Linked DNA regions of Homo sapiens: region 2 is linked to region 1. Evidence: fine-mapped expression QTL. A gene starts in region 1. The other region holds a variant in brackets. All regions are shown on one strand. Distances are between the middles of the regions.

Region 1 (8,716 bases):
CTTCATCAAAATTTTAAATTCAGTTACATGAAAGAGACCAAAGAATATATTGTCCAAGCACCATGGTTCATGCCTGTAACTCTAACACTTCAGGAGGCTGAGGTGGGAGGAACCCTTGAGCTCCGGAGTTTGAGGCTGCAGTGAGCCATGATTGCACCACTGTACTCTAGCCTGGGTGAGAGAGCAAGACCCTGACTCAAAAAAAAAAAAAAAAGAAATAATATATAATATATAATATATAAAGAACTCTCACAACTCAATAATAAGACCAATTGAAACTACCTTTGTAAAAATTATAACAGTGAGAAAATTATGACGCTGAGAGAAATCTAACCTGATTCCATCTAGCTTCTAAACTCCAAGCTGCCCTTGTTCATTCCTGGTCATAGGCTGAACTAACTTTGGAAGGAACTTAGTTTATAGTTTAACTTTGAAACAAAGATAACAGCCCTTTCCCAAAATCAACTCCCATCTTGCCTGGGGACCAGACTGCCTTTATAGGAGTAATATATTAGCCACAAGATTAGAAATTATGTTCTGGAGTCATACAGCCAGAGGCCACAAGATGCTGAACCTCCCCAATTGCTCCTAGGGATAAGATCACTATTGTAAAACCTAAGACTGGTGCTCGAGATATTTTCCAGACCCTGCATTCTGATCCACCAGCTAGCACCCAGACCAGTAATCTGGCTCTACCAGTTCTGCAATCCCACCCAGGAACAGAAGACAACAAGAAAAACCCACTTCGATCCCCTGTGATTTCATCTCTGACCTAACCAATCAGCACTCTCCAGTCCCTGGCCTCCTGTCTGCCAAATTATCCTTTAAAAACCCCGGTCTCAAAATTTTCAGGGAGACTGATTTGAGTAGTAAAACTCCAGTCTCCCATTCAGGTGGCTCTGAGTGAATTAAGCCCTCTCTACTGCAATTCCTTTACCTGGGCATGCAAAGGATAAACTCCTTGATAAATCACCTTTACTTGGGCAGCAGGCAAGGAGAACCCATTGGACAGTTACAAAATGGCCCTATTTTTAAAAATGGGCATAAGATTTTGCAAACATTTCACAAAAAGAAATTCACGAATGGCCAATAAACACATGAAAAAACACTTAACATTACTAGTCATTAGGAAAATGTGATTAAAACAATGAGATACCACTTTATACCCATTTCAGTGGCTCTGGTTTGGAGCAACTAGAAATCTCAGGCATTACTGATGGAAATGTAAAGTGGTACAGTCAGTTTGGAAAACAGCTGATGGTTTCTTATAAAGTTAAAAATACACTTACTATATGACACAGCAATCCCACCCCCAGGCATTTACCCAAGAGAAATGAGAACATATGTCCACACAAATACGTGGACACTAATACCCATAGCCATCTGATTTTTAATGGGCTAAAACAGAAACAACCCAAATGCCCATGGATACACATATTGGAGTACGTTTATATAATAGAATACTACTCAGCCATGAAAAGCATGGACTAATGATGTACAGCAACACAGATTGAATCTCAAAAAACGTTCAACTGACTTTTTAAAAAGCCATCAGATAACTTCATTTATATGGAATTCTAGAAAAGGCAATACTAATCTACAATGACAGAAAGGAGACCAATGGCTGTCTATGACCAGGGCTGGGGAGAGTGGTTACTGCAAAGGAAACCAGAATTCTTTGGGGTGAGGTCAATTCTCCATGTCTTAATGTGGTTATGGTTACATAGGAGGATACATTTGTCAAATTTATTAAACTGAAAAATAAAGTTAATTTTTTTTTAAAGGGAGACTGTTTCTCCTGTTTTGTTTTCCCCTTCACTTTTCAGAATTAAGCTGCAGTTAGCAGACTTTCCTGGTTACTTTGAATCAGGAACTCCTCAAAAAGTCTGTTGATGAAGGGAGAATCAGAATTAGGCATTTAGAGCAGCTTGATTTGACAACTAAATGTAGAAATTCCTAATAAAAAAAAAAACCACTTGAAATGTTGCCACATATGGAATGGGCTGGAGAAGATATCACTGAGGCATCATTGTTGTAGGGTGTTCTTTCTAGGGAAGGGAAGGGAGGTGAAGGACCATGAGCTCATCATTATCAAGGATTCTGAAACTTCAGTTCATTTTTATTAATAAATTACCTTCATGTGGCCAATGAATTGCCGGTCTGATTGGAAACTCTTTCCTGCACCGAAGAAACTGCACCAATTAGCAATATTCATCTGCCAATTCAGCTCTGCAGGTTCAGGCTCATTTAACTTGACAAAAATAGCTTCTTTTTCTTGAGTAGGGGAAGTTTTTCTCTGCCTCCAGCCCTAGTGATGGGCAGAGATGGTGGTGGAATCTTATTACAGCCTTCCTGTCCCTGATGTTCTTTATCCAGCCGCAGCGCCACAGGCTGCCCGTTTTTTTTTTTTTTTTGGATACCCATTTCACGACCTTCTTTGGTTTCTTTATCACAAAAGTCACTGTATGTCTTTTAGCTCAAAGCCCTACTGCAGTATTCTCTGTTTGTCTTTTTCCCTTTACTCTTAATATCTTATTTGTTCCTTCCCTTTTCCCCTTCTTCCCTTACCCCCTTTCATTCTTCCCTCTTTTTTTCTTTAATTCTTCACCAGCCCCTAGCATATTCTAAACTATTTGCCCCTTTCATGATGTAATGATGAACCGACCCCCGCCATAGTAATCAGGTGGGTTTTTTTTTCTTTGCAGTTTCCTTATACTGAAGTGGTACAACCCCACCCCCATTACCATCACCTCCACTTCATTTTAAATGTTCTACTCTTGTCCAAGATTGACTGGCCAGTTCTTCCTACCATTTCAGCCCATCATAAATTCGTAAATATGGATTCATTTGCTGAGCCTAAGTTTTCTGCATGAAAGTAAATCCCTTTTGTGATACCTACAAAAGTCACAGAATCATCAAACACAGTTCAAAAGAGCAAATGATAAATATTCATTGCATCATAATGATCTTGATTCTAAAAAGCAAATTATTTGCTATATAATAGGAACAGGCAGGTTAAAAACAATAATTAGAGTGTGAAAGAGGTAAGAGAAAGTTCTGAGAGTGATATAAAGTTTCATTACATTGACTGAAGATGGTTTCATGGAAGTATATTATGTAAAAACTCATCAATAATACACTTTAAATATGGATGGTTTATTTACATCAATTATGACTCAATAAAGCTGTAAAGCAAAGGAAATAAATAGTAAAAAACAAAGACAAACAAAAACATCAATGACTTAGGAATAATTAGCCAAGATATTCTTAAATGTAGGCTAGTGTATATGTAATTTTAGACTTGCTATTTATCAGCTGTATCCTTATTCTATGAAAATCTCATTTTACCTTAAAAAAATTAAGATGCGAGGACATACCTCTGAATGTTCAGTGGTCCTGGGATGCTCTCATGCAAGCTCGTTTCACTGTGAGCTGATGAATCAGCATAAAAGCTGAATAGTATCTCATGATCACACTCTGTTCTGCCAATAAGACAGTTTATTTTAACTTGCTGTTCCCATATTTTGAAAGAGACTGACTGCTGCAGAAATATACAAATCAGAGATATTATCAATCCTGAATTCCCAGTAACTTTATTTTTATTCTACTTTGCTACACAGGCTACTGGAGTTAATGTCCTATAGGTACTTGAGGATGCTGGGCACTTGGCAGGTATGCATGTTGGTCAATTCATTTGACAACATTTGTTTGCAAGGAAAATTTTCCTTAATGCGTCTTCAAATAGAAAAGTCTATGAGTAATCAAATGTGAGTGACAGAAGGGTAACCTTATTCCAGTAATGTCCCCTTTAAAAATTTTCCCCCTGAGCAACCATAAAGAATAAAAATAGTGATAATTATCAGTTCTCTATTTTTGCTGTGGAAGCTGGGGAGTTATGAAACAAATATACAGCTCAGTTTATCAGGACATTAAAAAATGCATTATGCATGTTATTCTTACCCTAGTGACAAGTTATTTTTTTAACCATTGTTTTTTCTCTGACCTGATCTGATCCTTTTTCTCTTTCTTTCTTTCTTTTTCTTTCTTTTCTTTTCTTTCTTTCTTTCTTTTTCTTTCTTTCTTTCTCTCTCTCTTTCTTTCTTTCTTTCTTTCTTTCTTTCTTTCTTTCTTTCTTTCTTTCTTTCCTTCCCTCCTTCCTTTTTTCTTTCTTTCTCTCTCTCCCTTCCTTCCTTTTTCTTTCTCTCTCTCTCCCTCTCTCTCTTTCCCTTTCTCTTTCTTTCCTTCCTTCCTTCTCTTTCTTTCTTTCTTTCTTTCTTTCTTTCTTTCTTTCTTTCTTTCTTTCTTTCTTTCTTTCTTTCTTCCCTTCTTTCTTTCTATCTTTTGTATCACAGAAAGCTTCCTCCAATCCTTTTTCTAACAAGGTAGGGTGCAAACAAAGGAATAACAAACTTCCTTTAGATATGAGAAATGTGGATCTTTTAAAGTGTTATTTTTGAGAGTCTTAAGGCAACATTAGGATAATAACATAACATGAAAACTGTGGAGATAAATTTTGATCTCATGTGAGCCCCAGGGTGGCTTTTATTTACAAATCATGTTTACTTCTCAGAGGGGTGGGCAGACATAAGCCGGTGTTTTAGAGAGTCTGAGGTGAAAGCTTTTCTCTCCCCAACAATGGCATATTTGTAGTAGAATTTTCTCATAAGAGTCTTGGTGAACAAAAATACACAGGGATAGAAGGTGGAATGGAAGGAAGTCCATTTCAGAAGGAAATAATCCCAACATAACTTTCAAGATATAACAATAGGTTATTAACTGGTGGATTTGGCAGGGAAAATTCTGCTACATCATTTTTTCTTTTTCTTCTTCTTCCTTTCTTTTTAAATTTATTTTATTTTTTTATTTTTAGAGACAGAGCCTAGCTCTGTTGCCCAGGCTGCAGTGTAGTAGCACAATCATAGCTCACTGCAGCCTTCGACTCCTGGGTTCTAGAGATCCTCCTGCTTCACCCTCCCAAGAGCTGGGACTGTAGGTGTGCACCACCATGCTCAGCTAATTTTTTATTTTTTGTACAGACAGAGATCAGCCTCTATTGCCCAGGATGATCTTAAACACCTGGCTTCAAGTAATCGTCCCACCTCAGCCTCCCTAAGTGCTGGGATTATGGACATGAGCTACTGTGTCCAGCATGAAATCATTTATGATGTGTTGACCATTTTTCAACTGGATATGAAGGCAGTATAGACACACAACTGTGAATTTATCAAGACCTGTGCTTTGTTTACTTAGTTTCTTTATATAGGAATTTTCAAACAAATGTAAATTGGAGGCATGTACACTGCAGTAGGTAATGGCTGTATCAGTCAACACTTAGCCTTAGTTGTCACCACAATGTTTTACCCCAGTACCATGCCTATCCTCGTGGGCCAAAAACACAGATAGAGTCTAGAAGAATGCACAAAGCAGCTTTTCACCAAGGGTTAAGTTTCCATTCTACTTGCTAACCCACAGAGAACGCATAGAAGGTGGAGATTAGAGAGTGACTTCTACACTCCATTCAGCAGATTCCAGGTTTCTCGATGGCCATGAAGAGTCTTCGATCTAGAGCCTCAAGGTTACTAAATTGCCACTTTTCAAGGTTCCTATTCTTGCTTTCTCCTCCATGCTGCAGTCTTTAATTCCTTTGGTCTTCCCAGTTTTTCCCAGATTCTGCCCATTTGGTCTCTGGAAGGGGTTGTCAGTCACTCAGCTCCATGGGTTTTAATGCTAGGTGGAGTCATAGTGAAGTTTCTATAACATAATCAGACTTATTATTCCAAGGCCAAGACTGATCTACTTTTATCAGTTAGAACTCCTTAGATTGCAAGTGACAGAAAGCCCAAGCCAAGGGACTTGGGTCAAGTTTGTCCTCAAGCACTCGCTTGTCCTTTCAGCTTCTAGTATGTCCTTGCCCTCATCTACTCAGGCTTTCCTACCAATTGCTGGCTGGCTATTCTATAGTGACTTCAGGTTCAACATCAGACACAGAGACAACAGCCTTGCACAGACTTCTCCACCAGCAACATAGTTTTGTAAAAATCTAACCCCTATAACAAATCCTTTAATCTATATTACTTCTAGTGGTTCTACTTCGCTGACTAATAATATGCCTTCACATAATACATTCCAAGGTCTTGGAAAAGTCTATGCACATTGCATTCGTCTGTTCTTGCACTGCCATAAAGAAATACCTGAGACTGAGTAATTTATAAAGAAAAGATGTTTAATTGACTCACAGTTCTGTAGGTTATACAGGAAGTATGGCAGCATCTGCTTCTTGGGAGGCCTTAGGAAACTTACGATTATGGCAGAAGGTGAAGGGGAAGCAGGCACATCTTACATGGCCAGAGCAGGAGCAAGAAGAGGTGGAGTGGCAGGCTAGGCAGGTGACACAGAATTTTAAACAACCAGATCTTGTGAGAACTCTGTCATGAGAACAGCACCCAAGGGATGGTGCCAAACCATATATGAAGGATCCACCCCCATGATCCAGTCACCTTCCACCAGGCCCCACCTCCAACACTGGGGATTATAGGGACACAAGATTTGGTGGGGACACAGATACAAACCATATCACACATATACTCTGTCTGCCACTCTCTTGATTAAAAATTGCAACCTAGTTTAGACAGTCGGTCTTAGTAATAGTGAGTATTCTCTTTTTATATTTTATTGAAATCATTAGACAAATAATTATAAAGCTTGAGTCACTATTTAATATGTCATGAGCATTATTCATGCCTTTGCACAGTCTTTATAACCATAATTTTAAAAAGGCTTGACAATATTTGAGTGGATGCTCTGTAATTTCATTTTTCACTTTTCTATTGTTGGCGCTGTAGGTTTTTTCCAATACTTTACGGTTATGAATAATGATCCGAGGTGCTGCTTCATGCATATAATTTTTCCATATTTTTGGAACATTTGGTTAGTCTATAATTTCATAAATAGAGCATAAAGGTGTGTAAAAGGTATGAACCTTTGTATTGCTTTTGATTCATATTGTTTAATTGCTTTCAAAAGGACTAGGACAATTACAATCCCATTAGTAATTGGTAATACCCTTGCCAGCTTTGATTGTCCAGCTTGGACTGAGTTGTACATTCACCTGACTGTGATGAAGCAGCTGGTCCTGCAGCTCGAGCAGTGGAGTTTCCGAGTCTATGGAGTTTTTCTTGTTGATCCTCAGTTCATGGTGGAGTCATTCAAGTGTATTTCTGGCATCTTGGCAGTCCTGAGTGCCATGCTCTCTCTATAAATTCCGCAAGTTAACATCGTGATCAAAATGTAGCTGCAGAGTAAAAAAGCTAAAAAGGAAACTGTAAGTTTCTAGATCTAGACATGGATTCCTTATTTGATGATTCTACAAGTGGCTTAAGAAGCAAAGAATTCAAAAAAGTAACTAAAGTTGTATGTGGGCTGATGACTGCAGCATAGTTCTCTTCTTACCTTATGATCAGTCAGATGAAGAAAGTATGAACATTGTATTATAGCATATTGATTTAGCCATTCAATGTGGAGAAGATTCAACATTTAAATAACCAAAGGAATATGAAAATGAATCTTCTTCTATGTTTGAGGAATATTTTCAAGAACACCAGGATGAATGAAGAGTTTACTAAGGAGTAACTGTCTATACGTGAAGAGCTTGTGGCCAAACCGGCAGAATATTCTTCTCTTCGAAGAATGCAGTAGTAGAAAGCTGCATATTCTAATGAAAAAAAAGGTACATGTTTTTTTTTTTTTTTTATCAGCAGCATGCCTGAATCAAGTTTTGAATTATTCTGAAACTGCTGCTGCTTCACGTGGAAACTTGTAGTATTATTTTGATCGTATCAATTTAAATTTAAAAGTCAAAATTGAAATGAATGCACATAGAATTGTATATAAATTAGCACCTCTGCAACAGTTAATAAGGCTAATACAATCTCATTTTTACTGTTTGTATTGTTTTTGAGGTGCAGGAATTATTGTAACAAAATATACATGTCTATCCAGAGGGAAATATCTGGAAGGATATAGGTAAGACCACTGCCCATCTATATCTTACCATTTCCCTACATTGAAAATGTATTATTTATATAATTAAAAAATTTAAAAGGGAATATAATTTTAAGGTCTTTCCTGATTTAACAGAAAAAAGTACCTATTCAATTTAAAAGGCATTCTACATTGCTCATTTTATGCTAATATCTATTTTCTGCTTTACAATATCTAGAAAGTATCAATATCTTTACTGATCCAGAGTACACCTGAAATATTGGAAAGACACTTTCCCTGGACATTAATTTCTGAGTGGTGAATGCAATCTGCCAAAAATATAAGGATTTGAGCACATATTTTCTAATTAAACTAGGATACTTATTGGATCGTTTTTGTAATTGGAAAGGTTAAGAGAATCATCAGTGGAGAGAATGCGGAGGCTATAAAAACACTGCAATTAATAACTTATCTGTTTAAATTTTAGGTAATAGCACTTTTGCTCTTCATAATAGCATCTTCAGGGAAAGCATATTGAATTCAATCTGCTGTGTGAAATATTTTCAGTTAGAGAAGGTACAGTATGTATATATAAATGAATGTACAGACTGCTGATGGTTTATTTTGGATCTGTAGCAGCCTTGGAAATAGAACTGAGTTTTATATAGATCTTTCCGAGTCAGGGTAGCCCTAAGCTCTTTATAGAGCAGTAATTTTGGCTGTGTCTAAATAAGAC
Region 2 (8,716 bases), 110 kb after region 1:
AAAAACTTTTAAATTCAAATTGTACACATGGTCTATACCTAGCTATTTCATGTAGGTGTAGGTTTTAGATAAACTTTATATATATATATATATATATATATATATATATTTTTATTATACTTTAAGTTCTAGGGTACATGTACACAATGTGCAGGTTTGTTACATATGTATACATGTGCCATGTTGGTGTGCTGCACCCATTAACTCGTCATTTATATTAGGTATATCTCTTAATGCTATCCCTCCCCACTCCCCCCACCCCACGACAGGCCCCGGTGTGTGATGTTCCCCTTCCTGTGTCCAAGTGTTCTCATTGTTCAATTCCCACCTATGAGTGAGAACATGTGGTGTTTGGTTTTTTGTCCTTGTGATAGTTTGCTGAGAATGATGGTTTCCAGCTTCATCCATGTCCCTACAAAGGACATGAACTCATCCTTTTTTATGGCTGCATAGTATTCCATGGTGTATATGTGCCACATTTTCTTAATCCAGTCTATCATTGTTGGACATTTGGGTTGGTTCCAAGTCTTTGCTATTGTGAATAGTGCCACAATAAACATACGTATGCATGTGTCTTTACAGCAGCGTGATTTATAATCCTTTGGGTGTATACCCAGTAATGGGATGGCTGGGTCAAATGGTATTTCTAGTTTAGATCCCTGAGGAATCACCACACTGTCTTCCACAATGGTTGAACTAGTTTATAGTCCCACCAACAGTGTAAAAGTGTTCCTATTTCTCCATGTCCTCTCCAGCACCTGTTGTTTCCTGACTTTTTAATGATCACCATTCTAACTGGTATGAGATGGTATCTCATTGTGGTTTTGATTTGCATTTCTCTGATGGCCAGTGATGATGAGCATTTTTTCATGTGTCTTTTGGCTGCATAAATGTCTTCTTTTGAGAAGTGTCTGTTCATATCCTTCGCCCACTTATTGATGGGGTTGTTTCTTTCTTGTAAATTTGTTTGAGTTCTTTGTAGATTCTGGATATTAGCCCTTTGTCAGATGAGTAGGTTGCGAAAATTTTCTCCCATTCTGTAGGTTGCCTGTTCACTCTGATGGTAGTTTCTTTTGCTGTGCAGAGGATCTAATTAAACTAAAATTCTTATATTTTTCTATATTTGGCAAGAGATGTGCTTCCATACGTGGGACTTATTTAGTGATAAAAATGCATGTCCTTCAAATCTTACTATAGGTTCATTTTTGATTCCATAGTAATTTTGGATTCAAAATAACAAAAGTACCTAATGCAGCTTTACATTTATACAATTACCACATACATGAGAATGGCTATAATTGTGATTATGTGTCTTTATACAACCATGGTCTAGAACTTAATATTTGGCTCCTATTACCCCAAAACAACAAAAATTGAATAGCTTCCATAGTAATACAGAAGTAACATTTTAAAAATTATAAAATATACAAGATTTGGGGGTTAATGTGGCAGCAGATGCTATGCTGTACCCCAATACATCCTCTCCAAAATTCCCATAGAATACACCTGAAAATGTCCAAAAAAAAAAAAAAATTAAAAGGGGTTACAGGTCTAAAAACCAAGGGCAAAGAGGACAAGTTCCCAAAGTCTTAGTGGTGATTCTACTCACAGCTTGGTAGATCTTATCCAATAAAGAAGTACCTTTTAAATAAAACACCACAGGCCTCATTCTCTGAACCAGAATAAGATCTAAACCCCCCACACATAACAAGGAAAGATTTTCATTCATACTCCTCCTCATTGGGGTCTTCTAACTCTGAGACCCATAGCTTTTTGCTAAACAGAAGATCAAATTTAAAAAATCCTTGGTCATGCCCCAACTAGGCAGCAGCTTTATTACACATAAGCCAGTCTTGGAGCCTCCCAGTCCAATACTGCTCCTCCCCTAGCAGCACCTCTCATCTCCATCCATGCATAGGTTAGAACACCCAGGATGCAGCACTACATTCATAAATGTGACATTTAGCGGCTCAAGGAAAAGCACAGCAAGATGCAGAAAACCAGCGTGCTGGGAGGGCACACAATGGAAAGTCCAGGTGCCCTCCCTGGTCTCGGTTTTCCCATCTCTCTATGAGAAGAGGCGCTTCATGGAAACAGCCCATTCTAATACACATAATAAACAAAGAAACATATGACTATTTTTGCTCTAAACTTTCACAACTTCTCCGTGTATGTGTTCAAAATAGATACCGTTTTGGCCAAGAATAAATTACGATGCGTGACTTAAGACAGAAGTTTATACCATCCTTAATAATCATGTCCTCAAAAATAAAAAATATGGGAAAGCTCTCAGGATTTATGTTTAGTGAAAAAATAAGCAGCACCTAAAATGTATATAAAATATACAGTGTGATAGCAGTTATGCTCAACATTTATGTGTAGCCAGGCACCGTGACACATGCCTGCAGTCCCAGCTGCTTGGGAAGCTGGGCAGGAAGATCACATGAGGCAGAAGGATCACTTACGGCCAGGAGTTCGAGGCTATAATGTGTGATAATCACACCTATGAATAACCATCGCACTCCAGTCTGGGCAGTATAGTGAAAACCCATCTCTTAACAACAACAACAAAACATTTGTGTGTATATATATGTACATACATAGAAACATACACAGAGAAATGAAAGCACACTTGTCCCCTGTTTATTACCCTGAATTGAACATCCTTAATTTATTCTATAAAACAAGGCATAAGGAGCTATGCATAAAAGCTAATGGGGAAAATATCCTGGAATGTCTGTTCCCTAGAACTTAAAGTATAATTTAAAAAAAAGATATTCATCTAAAATATCTGTTCTCTATAATTGCCAAAAAAGCAAAACAACAACAACAACAACAACGGCAAATCTGAAGCTTTGGCTCTGATTTGGCTTCTTGTTTTCTCTCCTGATATCCTTATGAGCAAACTGCATGTGCCTCTGAGAGAAAAACACACACTAGTGAGCAGAATGTTGAGTACTGTGATCAAAGTATTATGGTAAAAATTTTTTTCATTTTGTATTGTTTTGAAAAGATTGATCTTTTCTAAAATGGACAGTGTATTAGTCTGTTCTTGCACCACTATAAAGAAATACCTGAAATTGGGTAATTTAAAAAGAAGAGAGGTTTAATTGGCTCACAGTTCCGCAGGCTCTACAGGAAGCATGGCTGGGGAGGCTTCAGGAAACTTACAATCACCATAGAAGGTGAAGGGGAAGCAGGCACATCTTACATGGCAGAGGAGGAAGGGAGTGAAAGAGGAGGTGCTACACACTTTTAAACAACCTGATCTTATGAGAACTCACTATCATGAGAATGGCAAGGGGGAAATCCACCCCCATATCCAGTCACCTCCCACCAGGCCCCTCCTCCAACACTGGGGATTACAATTCCACATGAGATTTGGGCGGGGACACAAATCCAGGCCATATCAGGCAGTTAAGCTCCAGTTCAAATCCTTACTGTAAATGTGTATTGAGAAAAGGTTAATTTTCAATAATATAAATATATATAAAATTGTATGTGTGTATATACATAACACACAAAGTAAACAATGTTGACAGAGATTCTCTGGTTTTAGTATTAGACATGCTTTCAAGTCTCAGTATCTTACACATGTTCTGTAATCAGAAAAAAGTTAATTTAAAATAAGAAACTACTCCAATATCTGTTACAGGTGCTTAGTAAATGGTAAATAACATATTTATGTCATGATACAGTCAAAGAAGTATATGGTCTTATGCTTTAGAAATAAGATAATCTTATTAGGTATCATATTACTATATTAAGGCTGAAAGAGCTAAATGAATTAAGAGTCCTCAGAAATAATGGAAAAATGGATAGTTCAATAGAATAATTCCTGGGAATTACTTTGTTTTGGTTGGAAAGACTATACAGTAAGGGAGGGCCTCTGCATGAGTATGCAGTCTGTGCATTACACAACTAGCAAGAACATCTTGAATGCATTGTCTACTTTAGATTGATTACAATCATTTTCTGGCAGATGACAA[T/C]AAAGTGACTTGAGACACAGGTGGAGTTTAGCCTGGAAGTGGTGCCACTGGGTGAGCTGGACCACTTAGGACTCTGCCATAAAAGGGGCTTAGAACAGTGTTTCTCACATCTTCACGTGCATACGATCATCTGGAGAGCTTGCCAAAATGCAAAGTGTGCTTCAGTAGGTTTGTGGTGAGGCCCAAGATGATGCATTTCTGACAAGCCCCTCGGGATGCTAATCCTGCTGCTCCTAGGACCACAGTTAGAGTAGCATGGGTTGGCTGAACTGGGCAAAACCCAGAAAGTGAAGCCTGCCAGCCCAAGATAACTGAATCTTTCAGTTTAATCTGTGCATATAATGGAAAGATAAAGTTAAATCTTTTGAATCATCTCCTAAAATATGACTAAAAAAAAGATGCAGTTTATCAGCTAAGATATTTGGCAGAGAGGTTAAAAATATATTTCTCAAGAAATGGACAAATGCAGAAACAAATGAACTCTGAATATGATCAATGATTTACTGATTCAGGAATTTTCTTTTATAAAGGACAAAAACAGTACAAGAGTTGGTAAATGGGATGTTAACGAAGGCCATTAGAAACTGGAGACTTTACACTTCTTCATTCAGAATACAAAATACTTGTAGCACACATCTCAGAAAGATTTGTTTTCATTACTGGCCAAATAATATGCCTGGTTTAGAGCAAAATAAAATACACACACTTGGAAATACTTAATTAGCTTCAGTAAAACCACTATATGTAAAGGAGGCTGGAGATTTAATATAACAAATAATGTAAAATATATTTGCATTATTTTACAAATGAATTTTCTTTAATAAAGAAATTAATATCTTTAATATTAAAGAATTAAATATTCTTCAATAAAAATTGAAGACTTTTATTTGTAAAATAATACAAATATATGAGCTACCTACTAGTCAGGTGGAAAGGAGCTGCAGCCTAATGCAGTGGGTAAAACAAGGAATTTGGTGTTAATTGCCCTAAATGCCAGGCTAGGCTTTACCACCAATGAGAAATATAACCTGGGACAAATTCCTTAATTTCTCTGGGCCTCACTTTCCTCAACAGTTTAGTGGGGACACAGTGTGGATGCACTTAAAACAGTACAAAACAATGGAGAAATGCCAGTTTTATTACTAACATATGAGGATTACTTTTGATATTTGTCACATTTGAATCAACAATCTATTTAGTCTTATTCTAAATGTATCTTCAAATAAGGACAGAAAAGAAGCTTCTGAATAGTGTGGAGTTGAGAATGGGGTATAGAGAGAAGAGGAAAGAAGCAGACTAGGCAAACTGAGCTTTGTCGAAGCAGAGTCAGAACTATTAATATGATGGATAAAACCAGGACAATCAAGGTGCATTCATTATCTACTTGTATATAACAAATACCACAAACTTAGTGGCTGGCTTAAAACAATACTCATTTCTTATCTCACAGTTTCAGTGGGTCATTCATCCAGGCACTGCCAGCCTTAGGGTTACTCACACATCTGTAATCAAGCCATTACTCAGGTCTGGGGTTCCATCTGAAGGCTAAACTGGAGAAGGATACACTTCCAAGCCCATGCTGCTGTTGTCAGCATTTGCCTCCCTGAGGGCTAGAGGAACTGAGGCCCTTTGTCCTTGCTGGCTGTGGGTTGGAGGCCATTCTCAGTTCCTTGCCATGTGGGCCACTCCAATATGGCGCATGCTTCATCAAAGCCAGCAAGAGAGAGTCTTCTAGCAAGATGAAAGTTGTAATTTTTTTAACCTCATTGTGGAAGTCACATTCTTTCAATGTTAATCTGTTTGATTGATTAGAAACTAATTAGTCAAGGGGTGAGAATTACATAGGCCATGATTACCAGGAGGTAGGGAACATTGGAGCTATTAGTTATTTACCACAAAAAGAGACTACTTTTATATCATCAGAAATGCTGTTATCTACCTGGGTTCAAAGCAAATGATGTAAGAGGAATATAGACTACAAAGCTATGAGATCCCCAGAGTATGCATTTAGAGAAAGAATAATGTGAAAAACTACTTTAAAGGAGAAATTTTTGAAAGCAAGAAAAGAAATCCAGTAAGGCTGCCTTCTCCAACAGAGTCTAACCCATCTTCAGGATCATGATTCTTGACTAAGAACTGCTGAGAAATGACTACACATAGCTCATGACTAAGAACTGCTGAGAAGTGACTTTTTTATTGTAATGTTTTAAACAGTAAGAAAAATGGTATGGTCATGTTGAGGTGGGAGATGTAATTCGGATCCCTGTCTGTCTGTCTATCTGTCTATCTAACTTTTTGAGATGGAGTCTTGCTCTGTCACTTCTTGCTCTGTCACGCAGGCTGAAGTGCAGTGGCACAATGTTGGCTCGCTGCAACCTCCACCTCTTGGGTTCAAGCGATTCTCCTGTGTTAGCTTCCCAAATAGTTGAGATTACAGATACGTGCCACCACACCCAGCTAATTTTTTTTTTTTTTTTTTGCATTTTTAGTAGAGACGGGGTTGTACCATGTTAGCCAGGATGGTCTCAAACTCCTGATCTCAAGTAATCTGTTTTTGTTTTGTTTTGTTTTGTTTTGTTTTTTGCATTTTTAGTACAGACGGGGTTTTATCACGTTAGCCAGGGTGGTCTCGAACTGACCTCAAGTAATCTGCCTGCCTCAGCCTCCCAAAGTGCTGGGATTACAGGCATGAGATACCGCGCCTGGCCTAATTCAGATCTTTAAAAGTACATATGTCTATGTTTAAATTGTAACTAAGGAAGAATGAAGATGTCAGGTAAAACCTGGCAGATTGAACATGTTTATGTCTGCTACTTTTGGAAACCCTAAATGACTGTAAAAACACTCAAGGCCAAAAAAGAATCTCAGTAAGAATGACAACAGATGATAGATATCAACATAATTATAGAGAAGAAAAGCATGTGCCAAAGCATAACCAGATGAAGATGTCAAAGAAAGCTGAAAGCTGGCCCAGGAGAGAAGGAAGCAACTCAGAGTCTATCTCATTATCTTTTTGGTGAGGGGTAATAACAACATCTAATGAATTCATGTTATATTCCAGTTACTTTTTAAGTGCCCTACATAAAATAACTTGTTTATTTCTTACAACAATACTGTGATGTAGGCATTATTATTACTCCCACTTTACATATGGGGAAGCTGAGGCAAAGTTAAGGAATTTGCCCCAGGTCACATAGCTGGTAAGTGGCAGAGCTGGGTTTAAACTCAGCTGGGGTCTGGAGTCTGAGCTCATTATTGCTATGCAATACACCTTACCTTTACAAAGGAAGGACAGAGTAGAAAGATTAAAATTAGTGATCTTTGATGGAGGCTGGATGTTTTAGAATGCCTGGTGCTATAAAATGTTGACCAATTTGTTCAATGAAGTGAACAAGGCAGGGTTGAACTGAACACTGCCGACAAGGTAAAAATAACTTCCAAGGAAAATAAATGAAATATATAAAGAATGAAGTTAACAAATGGTAAAATGAATGTTTTAAACCGAATAATTCATGTAGAAAAATTGTGAAAGCAGAGGGACATCACAGAGATTAAACTACTGAGAGAGAAGATACAGCCATAGTCATGAGAAAGAGTGGAAGCCAGGAACCAGTGTATTGGTCTTCCACCCTGATTGAACACCAGAACCAACTATAATGGTTTAAAATATATATAAGTCCAGGTTTTTCTTGTAGAAACTGATTCAGTAAATTGAGGGCAGAGACTGAATGATTTTTTTCTTAAGGTTAACAGGTGGTTTTAATTTGACAAGGACTAAGGGCTGCTAATACTAGTCCACAGCCCAGAAGCAAGCCACGTGTGGAATTGGGATAGCTAAAGCTCAGATTAAGGCTGGGGATGGAAAATGTCTAAGAACTACTACAGTGCAGCGAGAATTCTATTTCTAGAAAACTGCCCTACATAAACATCCATAAGAAATAGCAGAAATATATATGCAAGAATATTCACTAAAGCATTTTTTGCAAGACAAAAAACACTGAAAACATTCTCCACTAGTAGGGGACAGGTTCACTATGGTAATTAAAGTTACAGCCATTCAGTGGAAAACCATGCATTAAGGGAATTAAGCGGATCTGATTCTGTTGCTATGAAAACACCTTTAAGATAAATTGTTAAATAAAAAGAAAGCTGCAGAACAGTAATAGCATATGCTTCTGTTTGTATCTACATCAAAAGGAATATGTAGATGCACATTCAATAGACCATGAAGACTATCTCTGAATAGGTTGGCTGGGAATGAGAACGCAAGGGGCAAAAGGAGATTTTACTCTTTAAGTTATATGCTTTGGTATTTTTTTTTTTTTACAACAAATGTGTCACTTTTGTAATAAAGGAACGAAACAATGCATAAAAGGATTTCTGGTTAGGTCATTGCATAAATGCCTGGCTCTTAAAATGGGGAATGGAGGGTGTTTTCTACACACTGGGGATCAGAGAGCAAAGTGGAGAAAGTATCATATGTAATATCTATATGGTGACTTTATGTGGAGGTGGAAAGATACAGAAAACGACCCAAGGAGAAGCAAGAGAATCTTAAGAACTCCAGACCTCAACAAAGAAACAAAAATGCAGAAGAATTCACAGGAAAAGAGTTGAGGTATGGTATTTTGAGAAGAAACATGAAAAAATGATGATGAGACACAATATAGAATTAAATGATAGAGGCAAAAGCTTTTTTACAGCCAAGAACAGAATACACATAAAAA

The links. PIP is the estimated chance that this variant, and not a neighbour inherited with it, causes the effect. A credible set is the group of variants that fine-mapping cannot tell apart.
Region 2: its variant is the best candidate, but not a certain one, in a credible set for the expression of LINC00836 in cerebellar hemisphere (GTEx, PIP 0.53).

What each region holds. Positions count from the first base shown.
Region 1 is chr10:25,646,461-25,655,176 of GRCh38, reverse strand. LINC00836 (long intergenic non-protein coding RNA 836) reads right to left here and starts at 3,465. Exons shown (of 3, transcript NR_108068.1): 1 at 3,378-3,465. It also overlaps the pseudogene GPN3P1.
Region 2 is chr10:25,532,339-25,541,054 of GRCh38, reverse strand. The region is part of intron 5 of GPR158 (G protein-coupled receptor 158); the gene reads right to left. Among named protein-coding and RNA genes, the nearest start is that of LINC00836, 120 kb to the left of the region's middle. The variant T/C (reference allele first, on the strand shown) is at 3,990.